Homo sapiens: one gene and its partners. The protein of the gene in region 3 purifies or fractionates together with the protein of the main gene of each other region. This does not show direct contact. Each region holds a gene or a part of one and is shown on either strand. Other genes may lie near its edges.

Region 1 (3,500 bases), on a different chromosome or scaffold from region 3:
CAAATTGTTGCTAATTCTACCAGACCATCATACTGGTGACAATTCACTGGTTTATCATCTTTATGCCTGCCCAAAGAGAAAACACTCTTAGAGCAGGGTATGGTCGCCACTATTGATTCCTCCCGCCCCCTGCCCCCCCGCAATTGTTTAATAATGAAAACAGAATTTCTGGGACAACATACTGGAAAAAATTCCAAACAATTTGATGCCAGAGCCAATATTAGACAAAAACAAAAGAGAGAATGCATCTCTGGTATCAGAAATCAATCAGTAAAAAGACCAGAAATTCTTAATTCAATTCTTCCACCACTGGCTACAGTGAATAACAAACACAAATCCCTCTTGAAAGTTTGGAGCCCAGAAGATGCAAAAAGATGACTGGATTATAACCTTTGGTTCATCTTTCAAAGTTTTTGTTTTAAAAACATTTACTACTTTAGTAATAAGTGTTGACTTGAGCCACATTCAGAAAGCTGTCTTAACTTTGTAGACATGCTGCAAATCAATACAAATACTAAACTGCCACACCAGATCCTTTAAATGAGGAGGAGGGTTACTCACACTTCTCCAATAGGTGCATAAGTTGATCCAGTTATGGTAAACTCATTAAGGGAACAAGTATCACCTTCCACTCTGTCCAGAATGAACATCTGTAGGGGGAGAGCGCATCAGAGTATTTAAAAGGGATTTTTAAAAAATGCTACACAAATAAACTACCTTTGTTAGCTTAGGACAAAGGCAAACAACCTCTTTCATTTACGAAAACAACTTTAATAAAACTCACTGAGGCTCACTCAGCATCAGCAGTACTGTCCCTTACCCTAACTAGCTTAATTATATTAGACTGCTTCGCCCATCACACCCCCGACCAATCGAACAGTATGAAAAACAGCATCACTGAGGTGCTGAATGAATGAGCAGCAGTGGCACCAAAGACACAACAACCCACACAAAATCCAAGTTATGAGGACTCCCGGTCAGCAAAAGGTCAGTTCCAGAGACAAGTTACTCTTTAGATTGCTCAGAATCCCAAATTTCAAATGGCTGGCTGTGAGAGTGGTATTAGGTAGTCCTGCCTTAGAGCTAAGCACAAAAGCTTGGGAAGAATAAACTCACATTTCAGAGTTGCATAAACATTTCCCGAGTAAAATAAGACAAACTGCTTCTCTGCTCCTTCCCACTTATTTTTATTGTGGCAATAGCTCATGTTCTATGAAGCTGCATAACTATATGTATACAGTAAGGAGCCCGCAGAGCTGAATGAATTGATGTTCCCTAGACAATACAGATGGAAGCATGCTTAGGAAAGGATTAATTTTATTTTTTAAAGCGACATAAGCTATTTTCTTAAAGATAATTTTTCCACTGCTTGATTTGCATTCACAAATTATAATTCAGAAGCCCAGTTTGGAAAAGTAAGATTTAGGCTTGTGTTTTCATTGCAAATGAAAACTTGTAAAACCTCCTCTAAAAAGAAAAAATTACAGAAAGTGATGTCAAAACTATATTTTCTCGTGCTTTCTCTGAAATATGAGCAATTAATAATCTGATCAAATCATTCTCTAAGGGGAATTTAAAAAATGTAAAACTCAAGTTAAACAGGCCACGTTGAGCTGGGCACGGTGGCTCACGCCTATAATCCCAGCACTGAGAGGCCAAGGTGAGTAGATCATGAGGACAGGAGCTCAAGATCAGCCTGGCAAAGATGGTGAAACCCGTCTCTACTAAAAATATAACAAATTAGCCGGGCGTGGTGGTGGGCACCTGTAATCCCAGCTACTCAGGAGGTTGAGGGAGAGAAGTGCTTGAACCCGGGAGGCAGAGGTTGCAGTGGGCTGAGATTGCGCCACTGCACTCTAGCCTGGGCGACAGAGCAAAACTCCGTAATAACAGCAACAACAAAGCTATGTTGTGTTTTAAAAACACATCTTTTCAGAGCAATTCATCTCACATTCAATAAGGAAATTAGTTAATCTTTATTTTAAAATAACTTTTTTTTTTTTTTGAGGTGGAGTTTCACTCTGTCGCCTAGGCTGGGTGGACTGCAATGGCACGACTCGGCTCACTGCAACCTCCGCCTCCCGGGTTCAAGTGATTCTCCTGCCTCAGCCTCCCAAAGAAATTATAGGCGCCTGCCAACATGCCCAGCTAATTTTTGTAATATTAGTAGAGACGAGGTTTCACCATGTTAGTCAGGCTGGTCTCGAACTCCTGACCTCAGGTGATCCGCCCGCCTCGGCCTCCCAAAGTGCTGAAATAACAGGCGTGAACCACTGTGCCCAGCCAAAAATGTGAAATTCTTTGAGTCTATACCAAAGCCCAAAATATTCTAAAAGACATTCAGAATCTGAATCTACATTAGCTAAATCTAAATGTACTTAGACATTTTTGACTGTGAGCAAGTCAACCATTTAGGATATGCAGGATGAAAATCTTCCTAAGTCAAGGGCAGTTATGCAATACCACTGCAAGAAGCCTCCTGCAGAATACCAATTAGCACCAGCTTCCTGTTGTGAGGTAGAGCTTCACTCAGAACAGGCAGGCTTTTTCTTTATTATAAGAAAACATTTTAAGCCAAGCCATTCAAGGGAGAAAAGAACAAAAAAAAATTATAGTGAACTGGGAAACTGAAATTTTAAAAATTACAATTTTACACATGGCTTTACACATGGCTTACTTTCACAGACATAAAGACTATTCTGAGGAATTAAAGCTTTCAGGCTAAGTGAGACACAAAATCGTAAATAAGAAAATTCCCTTTCTCTTCCTGAAACAACCAGTATGACAAAACTGACTTTTAGCCAATTCATCCAACCTTTTGGTTCCAAAAAATAAGAACTTAAGTAGCTCAAACACCTTAATATCCTGGAGAAACCTAAGACAAACCTAGAAGCTTTCCACTTTGAAAGTTGGAACACCCCAGTTCTGTCAATTCTAAATGTGGGTTTGGACTTCACAAGGAGCTTGCGGGGGAGGGAGAACCTGTATCTAAAAAATCATCATGAGCTTAAAATTGGCAAGATAAAAATTCACAGGGCTTAACTGATTATAAAACAATTTCCGATGTTAAAAATAATTATCTAAAACCTGACAAAAAGGCCAAGATAACTACACCCTTTCAATATCATACAGAAGCATTATTTAACAAGCCCATTCTAGGAAAATGTAACACTGTGTTACTAAATAAATGCTCATGTTATATGAGGTTTCCCTGTAAGACATTAGTTTTGTAATCTAACCTAGCAATCCCTATTCTAATATTCTAATATTGAACACTTCCTCAAATACAGATTCCCTTGCTAATTAATGAGCCGAATAAAATATGTGACAAATGTCTACTCTGTATGAGTCATGTGTACCTTTTGGAATAGACTTGTACCAAGTTGTTTAAGCAAAACCTAAGGAAAGTGAATTATACAAAATAATCCAGCTGTATAATTATTGCATTATTTATTCAGTTGTTACTTTTCTAACAGCAGGTTTAAATTATTTATTTTATC
Region 2 (3,060 bases), about 27 Mb from region 3:
GAGATTGTAGAAGGGAGTAAAGGAGTGGAGGAAAGGAAGTCTATGAGCCACTGGGCTAGAGGCCCTTTCCTTTCTGTGGAAAAGCTCAGTTCTTGCCATCTGAAGACAGAGGTGGCTGACTGCAATAATAATATAAGGAGTCAGAAAGGTACCCTGTCTCCCATTTCATATTGCCTAAGAACCAGCCTTTCCATATTGCCTGACAGTCAAATTGTTAAAGTTGCTTATTTTGTTTAAGGAAGCAATTTTCAAAGTATGTTCACACCCTAAAGGTGTTAATAGAATTCCCAGGGGCCCAAGGATTGGTTAAGTTTAAGACAGATTTGGTGAAACAGTGTTAAATTCTCTTACTCAATTCTCGCAGCCTTTTAATTGTGCTTGTTATTTTTCTCAGAAGGGGATTTAGCATTTAACTCTTCAAGGATTTTTATGTTTTCTTGGGCCATACTTTAGGAATAGTTGGCTTAATGCAGCACTTCGAAGAGGACGACATTTTGGGTGGGATTTCAGAAAGCCCCACCAAACTGATTTAAATCAATAAGGAACTAGTTAGGCTCACGCAACAAGAATGTTTGGCATAGATTGTCCAGGCTGGTACAGTACCTAACTGATGTCCAGGAACCAGGCTTATTCTGTGTTCCTGCCCTGGCATCCATAGCTCATATTACTCACCTCATGGCTCCAGGGTGGCTGCAGTGCCACCAGACAGAATGAGGTAAGAAGAATGAGGAAGGGCAAAATGCAAAGGACTCTCCCTTAGTCTTTGTCTTCTTATCCAGTCACCTAGATAAGTTCTGCTTACATCATTGCCTAGATGAGAAGATAAAGGTTTCAGCCTTTTAGCTGTTACTTAGTCACATGATGGTAAAGATGGGGATACATTCTGAGATATGCAATGTTAGGCAATTTTGTAGTTGTAGGAACATCATAGAATGTACCTACATGAACCTAGATGGTATAGCCTACTACACACCTAGGCTATGTGGTGTGGCCTATTGTTCCTAGACTACAAACCCGTGCAGCAAGTTACTGTTCTGACTACTATATGCAGTTGTAACATAATGGTAAGTATTTGTGTATCTAAACATATCTGTGGCTGGGCATGGTGGCTCACGCCTATAATCTCGGCACTTTGGGAGGTGGCAGAGGGAGAATTGCTTGAGCCCAGGAGTTGAAGGCCTGCCTGGGCAACACAGTGAGACCTCATTCCTACAAAAAAATTTTGAAAAATTAGCCAAGTGGCTGGGCGCAGTGGCTCACACTTGTAATCTCAGCACTTTGGGAGGCGGAGGCGGGCAGATCATGAGGTCAGGAGTTCGAGACCAGCCTGGCCAACATGGCGAAACCCCATCTCTACTAAAAATACAAAAATTAGCTGGGTGTGGTGTCACATCCCTGTAATCCCAGCTACTCGGGAGGCCGAGGCAGGGGAATCGCTTGAACTGGGGAGGCAGAGGTTGCAGTGAGCCGAGATCGTGCCATTGCACTCCAGCCTGGGCAACAAGAGTGAAACTCCGCCTCAGGAAAAAAAAAAAAAAAAGGCATGGTTGCACACACCTGTAGTGTAGTACCAGTTCCTTGGGGGAGGCTGAGGTGAGAGGATCACTTGAGCTTCGGAGGTGAGGCTGCAGTGAGCCACATTCGCAACCCAGCACTCCAGCTTGGGCAACAGAGCGAGACCCTGTCTCAAAAAAAAAACCCAAAAACAAATACTTACATCTAAACATGGAAAAGGTACAGTAAAAATATGGTATTGTAATCTTTTTTAACAAATTTTTTGGCCGGGCGCAGTGGCTCATGCCTGTAATCCCAGCACTTTGGGAGGCCGAGGTGAGCGGATCACGAGGTCAGGAGATCGAGACCATCCTGTCTAACATGCTGAAACCCCATCTCTACTAAAAATACAAAAAATTAGCCTAGCCGGGCACGGTGGCAGGCGCCTGTAATCCTAGCTACGCAGGAGGCTGAGGCAGGAGAACGGCGTGAACCCGGGAGGCAGAGCTTGCAGTGAGCTGAGATCGTGCCACTGCCCTCCAGCCTGGGCAACAGAGTGAGACTCCGTCTCAAAAAAAAAAAAAAAAAAGGAAAAAAAATTTAACTTTTAGGTTCAGGGCTACATATGCAGGTTAGTTATGTAGGTAAACTCTTGTCATGGGGGTTTGATGTACAGATTATTTCGCCACCCATGTACTAAGCCTAGTACCCAGTAGTTATTTTTTCTGTTTCTCTCTCACCTCCTACTCCACCCTCTGGTAGGCCCCAGTGTCTGTGGTTCCCCTTTTTGTGTCTATGTGTTCTCATCAAAATACAGTATTATAATCTTATAGCACCACCATTATATATGCAGTCGGTCATTAACCAAAACATTATTATGCAGTGCATGACTGTATTTGAGGGCATCAAAGGAAAAGGAGGATGGTGATAGCTTTATTTTTAATCTTAGTAAAGAGTCCCTCTGATTCCCAAGGCCCTTGTAATTCCTGGCTCTTGGTCTTCCAGGTGCTACGCATGATGGTCGGAGTAAATATCTCAGATGAGCAGCTGGGCAGCATCGCAGACAGGACCATTCAGGAGGCTGATCAGGATGGGGACAGTGCCATATCTTTCACAGAATTTGTTAAGGTTGGTCACTTACTTCTTGTTTGAAAAAGTTACGTTTTAGTGGCTGGGCGCGGTGGCTTACGCCTGTAATCCCAGCACTTTAGGAGGCCAAGGTGGGCGGATCACGAGGTCAGGAGTTCAAGACCAGCCTGGCTAACATGGTGAAACCTCATCTGTACTAAAAATACAAAAATTAGCCAGGCGTGGTGGCGCGTGCCTGTAATCCCAGCTACTTGGGAGGCTGAGGCAGGAGAATCGCTTGAACCCAGGAGGCCAAGGTTGCAGTGAGCCGAGACCACACCACTGCACTCCAGCCTGGCAACAGAGTGAGACTCTGCCTCCAAAAAAAAAAAAAAAAGTTACGTTTTACTGCACAGGAGGAAGGGGGGAAAACATTACTCAGATAAGAGCTTGGGAGTGTTGTAATCTTCATAACCTTTGTAACTGTTACTGGTTTTC
Region 3 (3,500 bases):
TCAAACTACTGGCCTCAAGTGATCCTCCTGTATCAGCCTCCCAAAGTATTGAGATTACAGGTGTGAGCCACCATGCCTGGAAAAATTCATTTATATTTCCTATATACTTTACATACACAGCCTGAAGTTAATTTTATATAACATTTTAAATAATTTTGTACATGAAACAAAGTTTGTGTTAAGTACATATGTGTAGAATTTTCTTTTTTGAGACAGAGTGTTGCTCCATCGCCCAGGCTGGAGTGCGGTGGTGGAATCTCGGCTCACTGCAACCTCTACCTCCTGGATTCAAGTGATTCTCCTGCCTCAGCCTCCCAAGTAGCTGGGACTGCAGGCGCACACCACCGCACCTGGCTAACTTTTTTGTATTTTTAATGGAGATGAGGTTTTGCCATGTTGGCCAGGCTGGTCTCGAACTCCTGACCTCAAGTGATCTGCCTGCCTTGGGCTCCCAGAGTGCTGGGCTTACAGGCGTAAGCCACCATGCCGGCCCTAAGTTTTTTGTATTTTTTTCTTTTTCTTTTTTTTGAGATGAAGTCTCACTGTCTTGCCCGGGCCGGAGTGCAATGGCGTGATCTTGGCTCACTGCAACCTCTACCTCCCGGGTTCAAGTGATTCTCTGGCCTCAGCCTCCCGAGTAGCTGGGACTACAGGTGCCTGCCAGCATGCCCGGCTACTTTTTTTTGTATTTTTAGTAGAGATGGAGTTTCACCATGTTGGCCAGGCTGGTCTCGAACTCCTGACATCAGGTGATCCGCCCGCCTCAGCCTCCCAAAGTGCTGGGATTACACGCATGAGCCACTGCGCCTGGCCAATTTTTTCTATTTTTAATGGAGACGGGGGTTTCACCATGTTGGCCAGGCTCCTGACCTCAAGTGATCCACCCACCTCAGCCTCCCAAAGTGCTGGGATTACAGGCTCCAGCCACCGCGCCTGGCCGAGTTTTCTACTTATAGTATCATGCCAGTGCTTAAAAAATTTCAGACTCCTTTGGAGCATTTCAGATTTCAGATTTTTGGATTAGGGATGCTCAACCTATAGTAGTTTTAAAGGCCTTACTTGGCAAAGTGCAAAGCCAGCAGTTCCTGCTAGTGCTCCCAGTGACATCTCAGGGCTCTCCAGGGCAGAGGATGGAGTTCAGCTGCTGCTGCTGCCTCTCCTGCCACCTGGCTTCTTCCTCTCTTCCCAGTGGGTCCTTGACCTCTCCCTGGACCTCCAGTCACTTCTGCCTCAGCCTCCCCAAATGTTTTACGGTTTCCCAAGCACAGCCTTGTCTTTAGGTCCTTCTACCTGAACACCTCTCTGCTTCCCCCACTGGCACGCCAGGCTGAGGCTCAAATCAAAAGCCCTTTCTTGGGGCATATTTTCCATCCCTCCAGGCCACCGGCAGCTCCGCCTTCCCCGGGCCCCAGGCCCTGGACATGCTGCTCTGTCACAGCCTTCACCCCCCAGCAGCAGGCAGGAGCGTGCTTGAGTCAGGACACAGGGCTTAGCATCACCTTCCTGCCAGGTGTGCAAAGAATGGGGATGACAGGAGAGAGTGGGGGCCCTGGGACAGTACCTTGAGCAAGAGAAAGGGCGTGATGACGTTGTAGGCCATGTGGAAGTAGTCCCCAACACTGGGCTTGTTGAGTGGAAACCACTCGAGAGGGAATACCAGCTGCGGAGCAAATGGAAGAATGGGCTCACCTGGGCACAGCCCCACGCGGCCCTCGGGCCTCAAGGGAGTCTGCCCCTAATGCCGCCCACCCCAACTCCTTTCACCCCCCACCCCATCATGTACACTTAATTCTTCCTGTGATCGCTGGACCTTCTCGGCAGCCTTGGGACAAAGGTTTATCCAGACAGGAAAGCTGAGTCCCAGAGGAGGTAACGGACTTGTCCCCAGACACAGAGCAGATGCAATTCCAGTCAAGGCCTGACCCTGTGCCCCTCACCCAGCAGATACCAAATAAATGACCCTGATGCCAGCTTGGGAGTTGGTAGGCTTCTCAGGGACTCCGTTGTGGCACCAACTTGCTGGGTGACCCTGGGCTAATACTTCCCTTCTCTGGGCCTTGGTTTCCCCATCTATAACACAAGAGAGGTGGCCCAGAGGGCCTACTTGGACCGTTCGGGTTCTGGCGCTCCTGAGTGCCAGATCAGTCTCCTGAGTGCTAGGCCCTGATGTGGAGGGACTGCTTCCAAACCAGGTTCAAAGTACACGTTAGGAGACAAAGGAGAAAACAAGAATGCTCTACAAAGTAGCTGCAACTCTTCCTTCCCAGAGAGAGGAAGGCAGGCCAGGGGCAGTTCCTCCTTCTGCAATGCTCTCTCTTCTGAGCCCTGGCCTTGTCCAGGCCAGTGTGAAAACCCCTATGCGGGGTTAAAGCATTTCACAACCCCCAAACTGTACTTCTAGTATCTGTTGATTGAAAACACACATAAGGCCCACAAGTTTCAAGGAAGGATTTAGATGGTTCTCTCTTTTAACACAGAAATGCCATATTGGATAAACTAAACCCGCAGAAATAAAACTCACAGAATGCAGCAATCTCAGTCTCTCTCTCTCTCTCTTACTCAGTGTGCATGTGTTTATCTGCCTCTTTACCTACATCATATATATACTTGCTAAAATACTCTGTGATAGCAAAACATCAGAAATAGGCTGACTCTTCAATCAAACAGGACCAGTTGAATCCCTGATAGTACTTCTTACCATGGAAGGTTAAGTAGCCATTAACAGAAATGACACCTTATATGTACTGACATGGAGAGAGAGCTATATTTTTTTTTCTTTTTTCTTTTTTATTGAGATGAGGTCTCCTTATGTTGACCAGGCTGGTCACAAACTCCTGGGCTCAAGCGATCCTCCCACCTTGACCTCCCAAAGTGCTGGCATTACAGGTGCCAGGCACCAAGCACCATTAATTTTTAAATTATTTGTAAAAACAGGGTCTTGCTATGTTGCCAGGACTGGCCTCAGGCAATCCTCCTGCCTTGGCCTCCCAAAGTGCTGGAATTACATGCCACCATGCCCACCATATGATATATTCTAAAGGAAAACAAGCAGGTTGCAAAATAAAGTATAAAGCAAAATCCCATTATGGTTAGAAGGGAAAAGGATGTATATATGTGTTTGTACAAGCAGAGAAGAGTGAAAGGGGTGTTCCCGAAACTGTCAGCAGTGGGACAGGAAAGGGGTAGGGAGAGTCTAACACTTCTTTATGTTACAACTATGTTACATCTATGACATGTTACTTTTATAACTTGTAAATGTTTTTGTTTTTAACAAATTTGCAACTATTATGCATACATTTGAAAATCTCTAGCGTATACAAGAGCTTTTCAAATGTCTACGTTCCACCAAGTCCTACTTAGGGTTACAGTGGTCACAGCAGCTCTAAGCAGGATGGGGGAAGTGATTTGCCCAATAGGAGACCCTGTTATGCCAGTAGAAGCTGGGTCCTAGTGAGTGAAGGGAGCCACGAGCCCACTCCTGGCCTCATCTCTCTCTCTAG
Region 4 (4,090 bases), on a different chromosome or scaffold from region 3:
CACTATGTTGTCCAGGTTGGTCTCTAACTCCTGAGCTCAAGCAACCTGCCTGCCTCGGCCTCCCAAAGTGTTGGAATTACAGGCGTGAGGCACCATACCCAGCCCTGGATCCTCTCTTTTATCTCCAATTTGGGGTCCAAGGAGACAAGTGAGAGTGGAAAAATTAATACTGTTTATTATTATTTAAAACATCTAAGCACTGTACCAAGTACTTCACATATATTTTGTTTAACCTTCACAACAACCCTGTCAAACGGATGCAAACGTGGTTTTCATTTTATAAATAGGGAAACTGAGGCATTCAAGATTAAGTAACTTCCCTAAAAGCTCATGGTTAGTAAGCAGTATCTCTAAAATTCAAACTCAGCAGTCTGACTCCAGAGCCCAGGTTTGTGTTTTTTTTTTTTTTTGAGATGGAGTCTCACTCTGTCACCAGGCTGGAGTGCAGTGGCGCTATCTCGGCTCACTGCAACCTCCACCTCCCGGGTTCAAGCGATTCTCCTGCCTCAGCCTCCCGAGTAGCTGGGACTACAGGTGCGCGCCACCATGCCCAGCTAATTTTTGTGTGTGTGTATTTTTAGTAGATACAGGGTTTCACCATGTTGGCTAGGATGGTCTCGATCTCTTGACCTCGTGATCCGCCCACCTCAGCCTCCCAAAGTGCTGGGATTATAGGTGTGAGCCACCGCACCCAGCCGAGCCCAGGCCCTTAAGACCTGTTTTTGCTCCTCCCAAACTCTCAGATGCTCTTCCCCACTCTATTACTTACTAGCTGTGCCCCCCAGGGCAGCATGCTGCAGCTCTCGCTCCCTTCGGTCCAACTCCTCTGCCTTCCGGTTGAGCTCCTCCTGTTTCTTCAGCAGCTCAGCTGTGGCTGCTGCAGCTGAGGCCTGCCCAGTGTGAGCAGACGGAGATGTGAGCCCTGGGCCCCAGGACTGGCCCTTCTCCCCAGCCCTCACCTGCACACCTCCTGTACCTGAGTGCTGTATGAGCCATAGTTCTTAGGTTCTGTGGGGCTGAGCTTTCTCGAGGGCTGCAAGGAGGGAGCTGAGGGTGGAGGCAATGGGGCAGGGGCTGGAGGCTCATAGGCTGGTGGTGGCTGTTGAGGAAAAGACCTTAGTGATCATCTAGTCCCTCATAACACAGGAATCTAGAGTCTGCTTGAATACCTTTAGACCCAGAACTCATGATGTAAGGAAGCAGCCTTTCCCCCATTTGTTAGGAAGCTAGTTCTTCTGTTGAATTTCTGTCAGAGAACTCTATGATGACCTGTAGCAGCCTTATCATCCCTCATATCCAATTCCTTAGTGAGGACTCAAATCACTCATTTACCATATCTCCCCACTTAACTGTGTTTTTTTTTTTTCTTTTCTTCTGGGGATGGAGTGTGGGGTTGTCTCTCTGCCACCCAGGCTGGAGTGCAGTGGTGCAATCATCACTCATCGAAGCCTCAAACTCCTGGGCCCAAGCAGTCTTTCCATCCCAGCCTCCCAAGTAGCAAGGACTACAGGCATGTGCCACTACACCTAGCCAATTTTTAAAACGTTTCAAGAGATGGGGGTCTCGCTGTTGCCCAGGATGGTCTCCATCAAATTCCTGGGCTCAAGCAATCCTCCCACCTCAGCCTCCCAAGTGGGATTACAGGCATGCACACCATGCTTGGCTTTTTTTTTTAAGTTTTAAGTACCATGAAAACCCCTTAAATTCTTACAACTCACCATCTTCTAATCCAGTGGGACAAACAGGTGTAGTCCTCCTCATTCCTTGCTTTCAAACTGCACACCTAACCTAAACTCCAACCAGCCCCAACCTTTATTTTCTTCAAGAAAGCCTTCCCATACAGAACATTGGTTAAGGCCTTGCCAGCCTCCAGATCTTCCCAGGACTGACTTTTAGAGCTCAAACCATTTGGGTTGGTGGCCCTGGTGGCCCTAGAAGGATGAGGCATCCCATGGCTGACTAGCCTCTCTCAGGGAACTAAGATCACAGTGCCTCTTCCTTCCTGTGCATGCAGAAAAGTCCCCTGTACCCAAGCTAACTTGTCTCACTGGCAAACCCTTCCCTTCCTTGAACTCCTATGCTCTCCAGTAGCTCACCTCCCGGGTCTCAAAAGGGTTGTAGACGTCAAGCGTGGCATACTGCCGGCTGGGTCGGTGCTGGATCACAGCTGGGTCCTGAGGGCAGAGACCCGGGTCTCAGCTGGCACCCAGTGCCACCTAGGGGAATTCCCAGGGACCATTCCCAAACTGCCTGTGGCTCCAAGTACTGCACCTTCGGGGCCACGCCGTTGTCCCAGGACTGGGACAACATTTACCTCAAATCCATCATCCAACACTGCCAGCACCAGCCCATTAAGGGGCAGGGCCCGCCCCCCAGAGTGCTCACTGGTCTGGAGTCACTGTCACCCCACGTGGCGGCTCTTCCCAGGATCAAATGTCACAAATGGGGATACAAGTTAGCCCGACCCTACAGAACCGGGAAGAATCAACCTGACCGCCCAAAAGAGGCCGACTGGCGCAAGTCACCTGAAAGGGGTTGTCAAGCTCGCTGGGCTCGGCGAACGGGTTTCCGCCGTCTCTGCTCTGAGCCATGTTTGCAACTGCGGCCTCCGCGGCCCTCTGCCCTCCACGCCCCTGCCGCAGCAGTGGCGGTAGCGGTAGCCCTCAGAGTCCACTTCACTCGCCTCAGTTCGCCCCGCTTCTCTGTGCACGGATTGGTTCCACCGACCGGAAGGGCCACAAGGATCCCCGCAGCAGCCGTGGGTTGCGCCTGCGTCTTGTCCAAAAGCTAAGACGAAAGTGCCCCCACGTGATACCTCTAACCCAGTGCCCACAACCAACTACCGCCCCTCTTCCATGTGACTTCCTTCCACTAACGAACTACACTTCCCAGCAGGCCTCGCGTAGGAATCCGGCCTTCCTAGTCTCCCGAGATGGACGACGGGAGCCTTCTGACCGGTCGTGGCAATCCCCCCTAGGAGCCAGGTTGAGCACGTTTTCAACCTGAGTTTCTGGCTCTATACTGGGCCGCGGCCTAATGACTCTAGGAGTCAGATCTTTCCCAACTCTCATAATTCCACATCCGAGAAGTGCCACCTCATAACACTTCTCTGTTTTAATCTGAAAGAAATGCTGCCCCACCCATCACTACCCTCCCATATGATAAGGTGGACAGGGGAAATAAACTGGTAGCCTGGCTGTGCTTCATTTTGGAGGGTAAGGAGGACTCCCTTCATACCCAAACTCAGAAAGTTTGCCAATAGTTTCATCCCTCCACCCCAGCATTCCCAAACCTCCAACTCCAGGGATGGGGGTCAAATGAAGCACGTTATTTTATTTCACAAAGACTGTACAAAATTCCTTATAAAACATGGGGTAGATGCCACCTGGTTACCTCACTCGGCCCCCATCCAACTCCGTATGAGGGGGCAGGTGAGGGTGGAAACTGTGTGGATGGAATAGTATTATGTACAAGGCAGGGGTTGAAGTGATAGGTACAAGTTCTTTCATATTTACACTATTTCACATATTCACAGGTATATAGAGAGCCAGGAGGAAGGAGTGAACTCTGGCTCGTTCTCTTGTATAAAAAAGCACCAGTGTCCTGGACTGGACACCCACTGCTATAAAAGATGCAGGGGGGCCCAGGGCCTGATCGTCACCGACTGATATCCCGACTGGAGTCCCACAACTTGTTGGGCGGCTCAGCCCGAAGGCGGGCGAAGAAAGGATGCTGAAGGGCTTCACCCAAGGTCAGCCGCTTAGCTGGTTCATACTCTAGCATGCTTTCAATCAGATCGAAGAGCTGGTGGTGTTCCTCTGCCTCTGAGGTCAGATACCGCTGGTGGAGGAGGGCAGGAAAAAGGTGAGGCAGGATGCCTTACAAACCCTGCCTTCTTCAAGACCCTACCTTTCATTCTTGGAGAACCAAGGCTCTGCTTGCAACCAATTTGAAGGCTACCTAACCACGACCACACCAGGACCAACGTTTCTGATATTATAGCTCAACCTACCTTCCCACTAGCACAATTACTCCATAATCTTTGAAAGTTCTTTCTACTTGTATATCCTTGTCAACTTCATGAATCTTC
Region 5 (3,500 bases), on a different chromosome or scaffold from region 3:
GGCTGAGGAGGGAGAATGGCCTGGGCCCACGAGTTGAGGCTATAGTGACAAATGATCGTACCAACTTCACTCCACCCTGGGGTGACAGAGCAAGACCCTGTTTCTAAAAAATTAAGAAATTCCCAGCCTGGGCAACATGGCAAAACCCTGTCTCCACAAAAAAATACAAAAATTAGCCAGGTGTGGTGATGCCTCCCTGTAGTCCCAGATACTTGGGGGGTTGAGACAGGAGGATCACTTGAGCCCAGGAGGTTGAGGTTGCTGTGAGCAGAGATCGTACCACTGCACTCCAGCCTGGGGTAAGAGAACAAGACCCTGTCTGCAAATAAAATCAATTTGAAAAAATAGGAGAATCAAAAGTGGATGTTAATACTACTGATAATTACATAGTCTCCATACATCTTCCCGGTAAATTCTCGTTATCAATTTTTTTTTGAGACAGGATCGTACCCTATCGCCTAGGCTGGAGTGCAATGATGCAATCACAGCTCACTGCAACCTCAACCTCCTAGACTTAGGCCTCCCAAGTAGCTGGGACCAACACCACCACGCCTGGCTGATGTTTTTCTTTTTAGTAGAAACAAGGTCATGCTATGTTGCCCAGGCACTATTAATTTTTTTTTTTTTTTTTTTGGTTGAGATACGGTCTCACTCTGTAGCCCAGGCTGGAGTACAGGGGCATGATCTTGGCTCACTGCTACCTCCGCCTCCTGGGTGCAAGCAATCCTCCCACCTCAGCCTCTCAAGTAGCTGGGATTACAGGCGCACACCACCACACCTGGTTATTTTTAAATTTTTGGTAGAGATGGGATTTTGCTATGTTGCCTGAGCTGGTCTCACACTCCTGAGCTCCAGTGATCCGCCCACCTCAGCCTCTCAAAGTCCTGGAATTACAGGCATGAGCCACCATGCCCAGCCTCATTACTATTTAACCTGGGCACAAAGTAATTATTTTACAATGGAAAAACCTGACCGGCACCTTTTTAACCCAGTGATAAAAGGGCACCTGGCAAGGACCAGGTGTCCCACTACGGTGCTCCTCCCAACAAAGCCCATGCTGGGCCTAGTCACCAGCAAATACCACACAGCCTAAGGGGCGGCCGCATGCTCTGGAGGGGTCAAGGTCAGGAAAGACAGAAAGGCAAGGGACCATTCCTGACTGAAGGGGACTAGAAATATCACTATATACAGTGGGTGAGCCTGTGAAACATCACTGCACACAGTGTGAGGCCTGGTGGCAATACTAACTTCCTGGTGTGGTTACAGGCACTGTGACTATATAGGATAATGCATTCGCTTCTAGGAAATACACTGAAATATTAAGAGGTCAAGGGATGCCATATCCTGTAGCTTACTCATATTGGCTTAGAGAAAAAAAAACACATACAATAGAGGTGGAAACCAACACATGCAGCAAAGTATTAACAGTTTGGAAATCTGGGTGAAGATCTATGAAAGTTTCTTTTTTTTTTTTTTCCCTGAGACAGGATCTTGTTCTGTTACCCCAGGCTAAAGTGCAGTGGCACGCTCACAGCTCATTGCTCCTGGGCACAAGTGATCCTCCCACCTCAGCCTCCTGAGTAGCTGGGACCATAGTTGCACATCACCATACTTGGCTAATTTTTTTTTTGTAGAAATGAGGTCTCCCGACGTTGCCCACACTGGTCTCGAATTCCTGGCCTCAAGTGATCCTCCCGCCTTGGCCTCCCAAAGTGTTGGGATTACAGGCGTGAGCCACTGTGCTCAGCCTGCAAGTTATTTTTATTATGCGTGGAAACTTATCTGTAAATCTGAAGTTATTTCAAAATAAAAAGTTAGGTGTGGTGACTTGCAACTGTAATTCCAGCTACTTGGGAAGCTGAGGCGGGAAGATTGCTGAGGCCAGGAGTTCAAGACCAGCCTGGGCAACACAGCGAGGCATCCCCATATCTCCGCAAAAAAAAAAAAAAAAGTTAAATTAGCTGGCTGTAGTGATGCATGCCTATAGTCACTGATGTGACAGGCTGGCTTGAGTGATGATTGTGCCACCAAGTGATGATTATGACACTGCACTCCAGCCTGTGTGACAGAGTAAGACCGTCTTTAAAAATACATAATGGCTAGGCCAGGAGCGGCGGCTCACACCTGTAATCCCAGCACTTTAGGGGGTCGAGGCAGGCAGATCACTTGTGGTAAGGAGTTCAAGATCAGTCTGCTCAACATGGTGAAACCCTGTCTCTACTAAAGATACAAAAATTAGCTGGGTGTGGTGACAGGCACCTGTAGTCCCAGCTACTTGGGACTGAGCCAGGAGAATCACTTGAAGCAGAGACAGCGCCACTGCACTCCAGCCTGGGCAACAGAGTAAGACCCTGTCAAAAAAAAAAAAAAAAGCACACAATGGACCAGTGTAGTGGTTCATGCCTGTAATCTCTGAACTTTGGGAGGCTAAGGCAGGAGGATCGCTCGAGCCCAGGAGTTCTAGAGCAGCCTGGGCAACATAGCAAGACCCATCTTACAAAAAAATAAAATAAAAGCTAGGTGTGGGGGTGCATGCTTATAGTACTAGCTACTTGGGAGGTTGAAGTGGGAGGATCACTTGAGCTCAGGAGGTCAATGTTGCAGTGAGTTGTGATCACAACACTGCACTCCAGGCTGAGCAACCCAGCCAGGCCCTGTCTCAAAAAAAAAAAAATGCTGGGTGCAGTAGCTCACACCTGTAATCCCAGCACTTTGTCTGAGGCCAAGGTGGACGGATTGCCTGAGGTCAGGAGTTTGAGGCCAGCCTGGCCAACATGGTGAAACCCCGTTACTACTAAAAATACAAAAATTAGTCGGGCATGCTGACCTGTGCCTGTAATCCCAGCTACTTGCGAGGCTGAGGTGGGAGAATCACTTGAACCCAGGAGATGGAGGTTGCAGTGAGCCAAGATCATGCCACTGCACCACTCCAGCATGGGCGACAGAGTGAGACTCCATCTCCAAACACAAAATAAAATAAAATAAAATAAAATAAATAAATAAACCCAAACCATATATATATAATTTCTTTTCTTTTTTTTTTTTGTGTGTGTGTACAGTGGTGCAATCTCAGCTCACCACAACCTCCGCCTCCCGGGTTCAAGCAATTCTCCCGCCTCAACCTCCTGAGTAGCTGGGATTACAGGTGTGCACCACCATGCCCAGCTAATTTTTGTATTTTTAGTAGACAAGGTTTCACCATGTTGGCTAGGCTGGTCTCGAATTCCTGACCTCAGGCGATCCCTCCACCTTGGCCTCCCAAAGTGCTGGGATTACAGGCATCAGTCACCACTCCCAGCCTACGTATATAATTTCTAATAGAAAAAATTAAAACAACCCAAAAAGTTAAAACAAGCAAAAAAACCAGGCATCAAAAACTGCTTGGCAGCTGAATTCTGCATCTAAGAGGGTGTGAATCTGCCTCACCTCCGAGTCCTCCACAGGATCAGCAACATTTCAGGGTCACTGATCACTGCCGCTACCTGGGCAGCGTCTCCTCC
Region 6 (3,500 bases), on a different chromosome or scaffold from region 3:
GCGTGACGGCACGCCTGGGACTGTCTCAGCAGCCCCCCATGCTTCACCCAACTGGGACAGGGAAACAGGAGGGGGCTACTTCTGCTTTCAAGGCATGGAGGAGCTGTCTGCAGGCCACTTCCCGAACACCTATGCGCTTGGAGAAGTGACTGAGACTGAGCCAGGGTATCTTCTCCACGATGCAGTGAGCCCATCGGGCCCTTCTTCTGAGAGCACCTCCCTGGAGGTGGAAGCCCCTGAGGCCCACAGCATCTTCTGAACCTGTGAGTTCCCACTTACTGAGAACTCGCCTGGATCAGTGCCGGGCCACAGTGGACCGGGACTTTGAGTGGATGCTACCCTACTCGCTATGCAGAGCCAGCTGGGGCCCAGGGAGGTCAGATAAACTGCCCAAACCAAATCCAGGCCCAGCCAGAATCTCAGCTCCAGCCTTTGCGCCTTCTGATAAAACCCAGCATCGCTTGAATTTCCAGTACACGCTGCCAAGTCTTCGTTAAGCAATAAATAACCACACAACCCTACTGTCATGCCAAGTTCCATATGGCCATCCAGAAAGAGACACATGGAGCTGGTTCCTCTCACCTTTATGACCAGTGAAAAGCGCACCAACACGAAGACACGCGTGAAAGGACCTCATCTCCTACCCAGACTGACAAGCAAGGGATTTTTTTCACTCACCGTCAGTGGGATGGTTCTAAGCACCGAGGCCAACCCATTTCACACGATTATTTCACAAAAAGAAACCTTCTGTGGGACGTGCCTGGGCGACTGAAAAGACAGCCAGCAAAACTGAGAACCTTGTTCTCAAATCTATACCCTCTCCCAAGGCAGCCTCAGAGGCCCGAGGGCTGAGGATCCAGACCCGAAAGCCACTGTACCTTCTGTAGGATCAGGCTCAAGGAATAAGGGGGTAAAAGGTGCCCTTTCCCTTCCTAAGCAGAAAATTCCAGAACCCAACCTTATGTGTGATCATTTAAAAATATATATATATATATATATATCAGCCGAGTAGGCTGACTCACGCCTGTAATCCCAGCACTTTGGGAGGCCGAGGTGGGCGGATCACCTGAGGTCAGGAGTTCGAGACCAGCCTGGCCAACGTGGAGAAACCCTGTCTCTACTAAAAAATACAAAATCAGCCAGGCATGGTGGTGCATGCCTGTAATCCCAGCTACTCGGGAGGCTGAGGCAGGACAGTCGCTTGAACCCAGGAGGCAGAGGTTGCAGTGAGCCGAGATCGTGCCATTGCACTCCAGCCTGGACAAAAAGAGCGAAACTCCACCTCAAAATAAATAAATAAATAAATAATAAATAAGTAAAATAAATCACTTTCTATGGCTTTTCACTGCTCCAGGAGCAATGTCCACAGATCAAACGCCCGGCCTCTCCTTCACACCCTGGAGCGCCCATCCTGCCCACTGGTCCGGGCTCCAGGCTGCCCCCTGCACCTGTCAGAAGCCCCCCTATAAGGGCAGGGTCTCCCTTCCCGGGACATCCACTGCCCTTCTCCGAGCTGAAGTCAGAATGACCTGAGAATCAGCTTGGAGTTCTACCAGCCTCAGCAAAGCCCACCTCTGCGACAGCACTCCTTGCAGACCCCTGACCCGGTGACAGATGAATAAAGTACAGACACACAGATATTCTGCTCTGCCAGTCCAGCTGAGGGTCCCAGCCGCTTATAGGCTCCCTGCTGAGTCCTGTAAACAGTTGCTACTTGGCCCTGATCAGCTAGTCAGACGTGCATTTATTCAGTATGATTAACTAACAAAAGCTTGAGTCAACACCATTAGAATGTAACAGACATTGTGGACTTCCCAAGTAAAAAGCACTTAAACACCCACGGTCTTAAGATTATGCGAGTAAACAAGCTAGCTAGGTAAACTACGCTGCCTTTCTTTTATCACTATTTTTATTTGTTTAATTAAAGGTAAAGGGATCAGGCCGCCTTCAGCCAGAGCTAATTACCGAAGTTATGCCAACTTCTCGGCCTTCCAAGATTTGTGTCTATTTCTATAACTATCTCTAATATCTTTCCCACCAGAATGATTGAACCCCAACACACCTCCCTCTCTCAGCAGGGTCTGCCTGTTCAGAGAACACAGCTTCTCTTTCTTGCCTTACACACAGGGGCAAGAATAGATTCACTCTTGCAGAGAGTACATCCCTTTCTGTTACTGAAAATCACTTTCCAAAAAAAAAAGCAACACATACACACATACTCACCACACACACAGGTGGGTCAGAGAAAAAAAACAAGTACAAATGGCTTAGGGACATGAGAAGTGTGGCCCTAACTTTCGCTGAAAGGGACCCTATTAACATTAACCCTCACCTCTGGGTCAGAGAGGGTTGGCACTCTAGGGCCTGCCTTGAAGCTTTACCTACTGGGACCAAAAGGACTGCTTGGAAAGCTATTTTAGGCCAGGTGTGGTGGCTCAAGCCTGTAATCCCAGCACTTTGGGAGGCAGAGGCGGGTGGATCACCTGAGGTCAGGAGTTCAAGACAAGCCTGGCCAACATGGTGAAGCCCCGTCTCTGCTAAAAATACAAAAAATTAGCTGGGCATGGTGGGCACCTGTAGTCCCAGCTACTCGGGAGGCTGAGGCAGGAGAGTCGCTTGAACCCGGGATGCGGAGGTTGTAGTGAGCCAAGATCGTGCCATTGTACTCCAGCCTGGGTAAGAGCAAAACTCCATCTCAAAGATAAAATAAAATAAAAATAAATTTAAAAAATACTTTTTAAAGCCCTATTACCACAAAATAAATCCAGGAACGCGTGACTTGGTACAGCCTCTTTGGAAGGCACATTAGCTATTACATTAGAATCCACACCCCGCCGGGTGCGATGGCTCATGCCTGTAATCCCAGCAAATTGGGAGGCTGAGGCACATGCCTGTAATCTAAGCTCCGGAGGTTGAGGCAGGAGAATCGTTTAAACCCAGGAAGCAGAGGTTGCAGTGAGCAACGAGCCTGGGCAACAGACACAGACTCTGTCTCAAAACAAAATCAAAAACAAAAAGCAAAAAACCACATACCCTTTTCCCATTTGCACAAAGCTGGGAAACCCCAAATGCCCTCCACAGGGTTCTATGGGGGGGCGGGGGTGCGGTGAGCACACTTGTTCCTGCCGACACAGGGAAGTCTTCTTAGCAGCTAAAGAGGGCAGCCTCTGCGTACTGCCTGGGAACATGGCAAAACCATTTTAGGCTTTAAAAAAAAGGTGGAGAACAAGTTGTACATTATGATCTTTTAAATAAATAGGCCAGCGATATATTTGTAACAGAAGCAGCTCCGGAAGCATACACTGTCAGCCGCAGAAACTCTGGGGGTCGGGGGTGGTAAAGGAGGAGAAATGTGTCACCCAGGCAGGAGCTCAGTGGCACCATGCTTGGTTCAAGCAGTTCTCCTGCCTCAGCCTCCGAGTAGCTGGGACTACAGGTGTGCGCCATGACGCCCAGCTGATTTTTGCTTTTTTTTTGAGATGGAGTTTCGCCTTGTTGCC
Region 7 (3,500 bases), on a different chromosome or scaffold from region 3:
GGATCTGCTATGTCTGTTTGGGTGTCATGTGAGATTTTATTTGAAGAAAGGGCCCTGCTCGGAAAGAAGTCTGAAAACCATGGGAATGTATGTTTTCAGGTACTGGGCCAGTCACCCAAATCTTTTTTTTTTTTTTTTTTTTTTGAGACGGAGTCTCACTCTGTCGCCCAGGCTGGAGTGCAGTGGCATGATCTCAGCTCACTGCAACCTCCGTCTCCTGGGTTCACGCCATTCTCCTGCCTCAGCCTCCTGAGTAGCTGGGACAAAGCCGCCCACCACGCCTGGCTAATTTTTTTGTATTTTTAGTAGAGACGGGGTTTCACCGTGTTAGCCTTCATCTCCTGACTTGGTGATCTGCCCGCCTCAGCCTCCCAAAGTGCTGGGATTACAGGCGCGAGCCACCGCGCCCGGCCCCAGTCACCCAAATCTTAATCTGCTCCTGAAAGCTAGCACATCCGTGGTGGCAGAGAAGAGCCTGTGGTTTAAATATTTCCATGCTGAAGAAGAGCTGAAAGACAAATGCTCACAGCACATCCTGGTGAGGCCCCCCAGGCTCCCACCTGAAACACCTCTTCACCCTGCCGCATCTTGAGGAGGTTGACAATTGCCTGGTCGCTGTAGGCCCTGACCACGGTGTTCTTATCCTTGGTGTTGTCAAGAAGAGCCTTCAGGATGGGCTTGATGGCCTGGGGGTCCAGGGGAGGCAGTGGGTCCTTATTTGCCCACCAGATCATCTTCTCAGCCACCAGCCTGATGTCGCTGGATGGGTTCTGCAGACACTGTAAAAAGAACCACAAACAGGCTTTTGGATAGGCATGTCATCTATTCCTTGAAGCAGCCCAAATGCCCAGCCTCGACACTCTCCCTACAGCATGAACACTGACCCCCCCTGCTCCTGTGGGAGGGTCCCAGCATGACTCGACCCTGGTTTCCTGCACCCTCATCTCATGCCACTCTCCCCTTGCTCACTACTCTCAGCCCGCATGCGTTTTTACTTCCTCCAACATCCCAGGGCCTCGGGCCTCTGCCCTGGCTGGTCCCACAGCTTGGGCCGTGCTTGCCCCGGATCCTCTCTAGGTTAGTTCCTTCCCATCCTGCAGGTCTCAGCTCCCATGTCATCCTTTAGAGGTGCCCCCTGCCAATCTTATCTATATCAGGGTCCTCCCCATGGGCTCCAGGGATCCTGTCTGCCTTGTTCATCTCTACACCTTCAGGATAATGCCAAGTGAACAAGCGGGTGCAGGCTGATGTCATCACAGACGAGGCTCAATCGAATCAGGCCCCTCAGAAACTCCGTGGGTTCCCGGTGCTGCGGGGGGAGGCAGTCACTCTTGGGAACCTCATTACTCAAGGCAAGGTCCATGCACAGCACCACTGACACTGTTGCTGAGAGCTGGTTAGAGTACCAGGCATGGCCCCATCTCACTAAAATACACCCTGGCTCTGACTTCTGTGCACAGTAATGCTTCAGAAGCACGCCATATCACACGGGCCACAGGAGCCCTGCTGGCACATTCCTTGGCTTTCCTAACTAGGGCCTGGCACATAGCACAGTAACCACACCAAGAAGTGCTGGGCCAACTAGAAGAGGAAGGAGGGAAAAGAGAGGTATTAAGATGGGAACCCAGGTCTGTATCTAATTTTACAAAACTACGGTGCCTAGAAAGAATGCCTAAAATAGCGATTCCTAACTTGATTCAGAGTCACGGGTCAATTTGAGAATCTGACAAAAAGTTAGGCTTTATTGCAGTGTAAAGCACACACAGAAACCCCCTACATTCCATCCCTAAGTGTTCAGCGATCTCCTGGAGGCCGTCCACGGAGAACTAGCACACAACTAGTTGAGGGCGCACTGCTGGTGGTCTCTGATCCTAGGACCTCCTCACAAGCCAGGTGTTAGGGCTTAAACACATGCTTGGCCCCCACTCACCTTAACGAACAGGCTGGAAAGTTTGGCCGGCAACTGCCCTCCGCCTGTCTCGATGTGGTGTCTCATGAGAAAGCCCATGCCCCGGACCCCGCTCACCGCAATGGGGATCTGTGGAGAACAGACAGCGCTAGACGGGAGGCCCCCCACCCCTTCCCCAGAGCCAGGAAAACCCCAGTTCCTAGTAATCTCCAGGACCCTCCACTACATCACCACCACATCACCCCTTACACCATGACAGCTCTCAGGCAGGCTGCCCCGGCTGAGGCAGATGAGTACAGTCACTGGTTCCCAGGAACAGGGATCCAAGACCTGACCCAGAAGGGGCATCTAGATTCTTCAACCCAAATTCCTTGTTTAGATGATGAAACTGGGGCCCAAAGGGATCAAGTGCTGGTCCAAGGGCACAGCAAGTTACTGACAAAGGTAAAATTAGACCCAAGCTTCTTAAGCCCCAGTCTGGGGTCCACCCGCGCTGTGTCCACAAGGTGCTGCCTATGGGATGTGGCCTATGCCTATGGGATATGGCCCGAATGCCTTACCCTGTCCGCCGTGGCACTGCTCAGGATCATTTCCTGAACATCACTGCTATATCTGCCGGCACAAAGTCTGCCAGGAGCCACATTCACAGCCACGGAAAGTGCCAGGCTCCGCCCGTGCCGAACCATCCAGTCAATGCCGGACACGTCCGCTGGGTGGAAGGACACGACTGGGATCAACCGGTATTTTACAGCATGTCCCCAGCACCCATGAGGCCCATGGGCCCACCCCGCTGGAGACCAGTGTGCTGACCCAGAGCACAAGGAAAACTCCAGGCCACATTCACATGGACCTCCCTGCTATCTTGGCAGAAGCTCCCCAAAGTGGCACATTAAGGAAAGTAAGGAAAGCCTGCTCATGAACCACTCCGGGCTTACAGCTGTGTTCTTTGAGCAGAGACACTCAGGGCTACGGGACCACTGCAAATTCAGTATTGTTTGTTTGTTTTAGAGACAGGGCCTCGCTCTGTCGCCCAGGCTAGAGTGCAGGGGCGTGATCAAGGCTCACTGCAACCTTCAACTCTTGGGCTCAACTGATCCTCCCACCTCAGCCTCCTGAGTAGCTGGGACTACAGGTGAGTGCCACCACCCCTGGCCTGGATTTTGCTTTAACTGCTGGATTCCCAAGGAAAGGACAGTCCAGTTGCTAAAAGATCCTCTGAGGGAGGGAGGGAGATGCCCGTCGACTCTTCGCTAGGGCTGAGAGGCCCAGGTCCCTGAAGGGGAACTCTCCAGTGTACTTACCCAGCAAGCACTGCTGTAGAACGGCACTAAGCTCCTCTTCAGTCAAAAAGGCACACAGTTCCCCTAGGCACCCGGCTGAGGAGATGCGAGTGTTGTCCTGACAGGGAAGAGAAGGGAGTGAGGGGGTGCAGGGAACAACACCAGCTGTGTGGGAACCAAGGCAGGCAGCTCTAGAGCCCAGGATGGACAGCAACAAAGAAGGTGGAAAAGCCAACTCAGAGACTCAAGATCCAGTCCTTCCTGTAGGCACTCGTGCTCCCCTGCCAGATTGGGCTGCCACTGGTATGGAG

Evidence for each region.
Region 1: the proteins of CLN6 (region 3) and ATP2A2 purify together in Homo sapiens (co-immunoprecipitation; one large-scale study listed by IntAct). This does not show direct contact.
Region 2: the proteins of CLN6 (region 3) and CHP1 purify together in Homo sapiens (co-immunoprecipitation; one large-scale study listed by IntAct). This does not show direct contact.
Region 4: the proteins of CLN6 (region 3) and SCAMP3 purify together in Homo sapiens (co-immunoprecipitation; one large-scale study listed by IntAct). This does not show direct contact.
Region 5: the proteins of CLN6 (region 3) and SMPD4 purify together in Homo sapiens (co-immunoprecipitation; one large-scale study listed by IntAct). This does not show direct contact.
Region 6: the proteins of CLN6 (region 3) and SLC7A5 purify together in Homo sapiens (co-immunoprecipitation; one large-scale study listed by IntAct). This does not show direct contact.
Region 7: the proteins of CLN6 (region 3) and GCN1 purify together in Homo sapiens (co-immunoprecipitation; one large-scale study listed by IntAct). This does not show direct contact.

What each region holds. Positions count from the first base shown.
Region 1 is NC_000012.12:110,329,747-110,333,246, reverse strand, and holds part of ATP2A2 (sarcoplasmic/endoplasmic reticulum calcium ATPase 2), read right to left. Parts: intron 651-3,500; coding exon 562-650; intron 67-561; coding exon 1-66.
Region 2 is NC_000015.10:41,276,268-41,279,327, forward strand, and holds part of CHP1 (calcineurin B homologous protein 1), read left to right. Parts: intron 1-2,499; coding exon 2,500-2,622; intron 2,623-3,060. UniProt on the Homo sapiens protein: Calcium-binding protein involved in different processes such as regulation of vesicular trafficking, plasma membrane Na(+)/H(+) exchanger and gene transcription. Involved in the constitutive exocytic membrane traffic.
Region 3 is NC_000015.10:68,212,729-68,216,228, forward strand, and holds part of CLN6 (ceroid-lipofuscinosis neuronal protein 6), read right to left. Parts: intron 1,661-3,500; coding exon 1,562-1,660; intron 1-1,561.
Region 4 is NC_000001.11:155,259,561-155,263,650, forward strand, and holds the start of SCAMP3 (secretory carrier-associated membrane protein 3), read right to left. Parts: upstream 2,801-4,090; 5' UTR 2,592-2,800; coding exon 2,526-2,591; intron 2,175-2,525; coding exon 2,097-2,174; intron 1,100-2,096; coding exon 977-1,099; intron 891-976; coding exon 770-890; intron 1-769. Other genes in the region: dual specificity protein kinase CLK2, read right to left, coding at 3,658-3,840. UniProt on the Homo sapiens protein: Functions in post-Golgi recycling pathways. Acts as a recycling carrier to the cell surface.
Region 5 is NC_000002.12:130,168,103-130,171,602, forward strand, and holds part of SMPD4 (sphingomyelin phosphodiesterase 4), read right to left. Parts: intron 1-3,500. UniProt on the Homo sapiens protein: Catalyzes the hydrolysis of membrane sphingomyelin to form phosphorylcholine and ceramide. It has a relevant role in the homeostasis of membrane sphingolipids, thereby influencing membrane integrity, and endoplasmic reticulum organization and function.
Region 6 is NC_000016.10:87,863,008-87,866,507, forward strand, and holds part of SLC7A5 (large neutral amino acids transporter small subunit 1), read right to left. Parts: intron 1-3,500. UniProt on the Homo sapiens protein: The heterodimer with SLC3A2 functions as a sodium-independent, high-affinity transporter that mediates uptake of large neutral amino acids such as phenylalanine, tyrosine, leucine, histidine, methionine, tryptophan, valine, isoleucine and alanine.
Region 7 is NC_000012.12:120,128,716-120,132,215, forward strand, and holds part of GCN1 (stalled ribosome sensor GCN1), read right to left. Parts: intron 3,308-3,500; coding exon 3,211-3,307; intron 2,619-3,210; coding exon 2,470-2,618; intron 2,039-2,469; coding exon 1,931-2,038; intron 780-1,930; coding exon 561-779; intron 1-560. UniProt on the Homo sapiens protein: Ribosome collision sensor that plays a key role in the RNF14-RNF25 translation quality control pathway, a pathway that takes place when a ribosome has stalled during translation, and which promotes ubiquitination and degradation of translation factors on stalled ribosomes.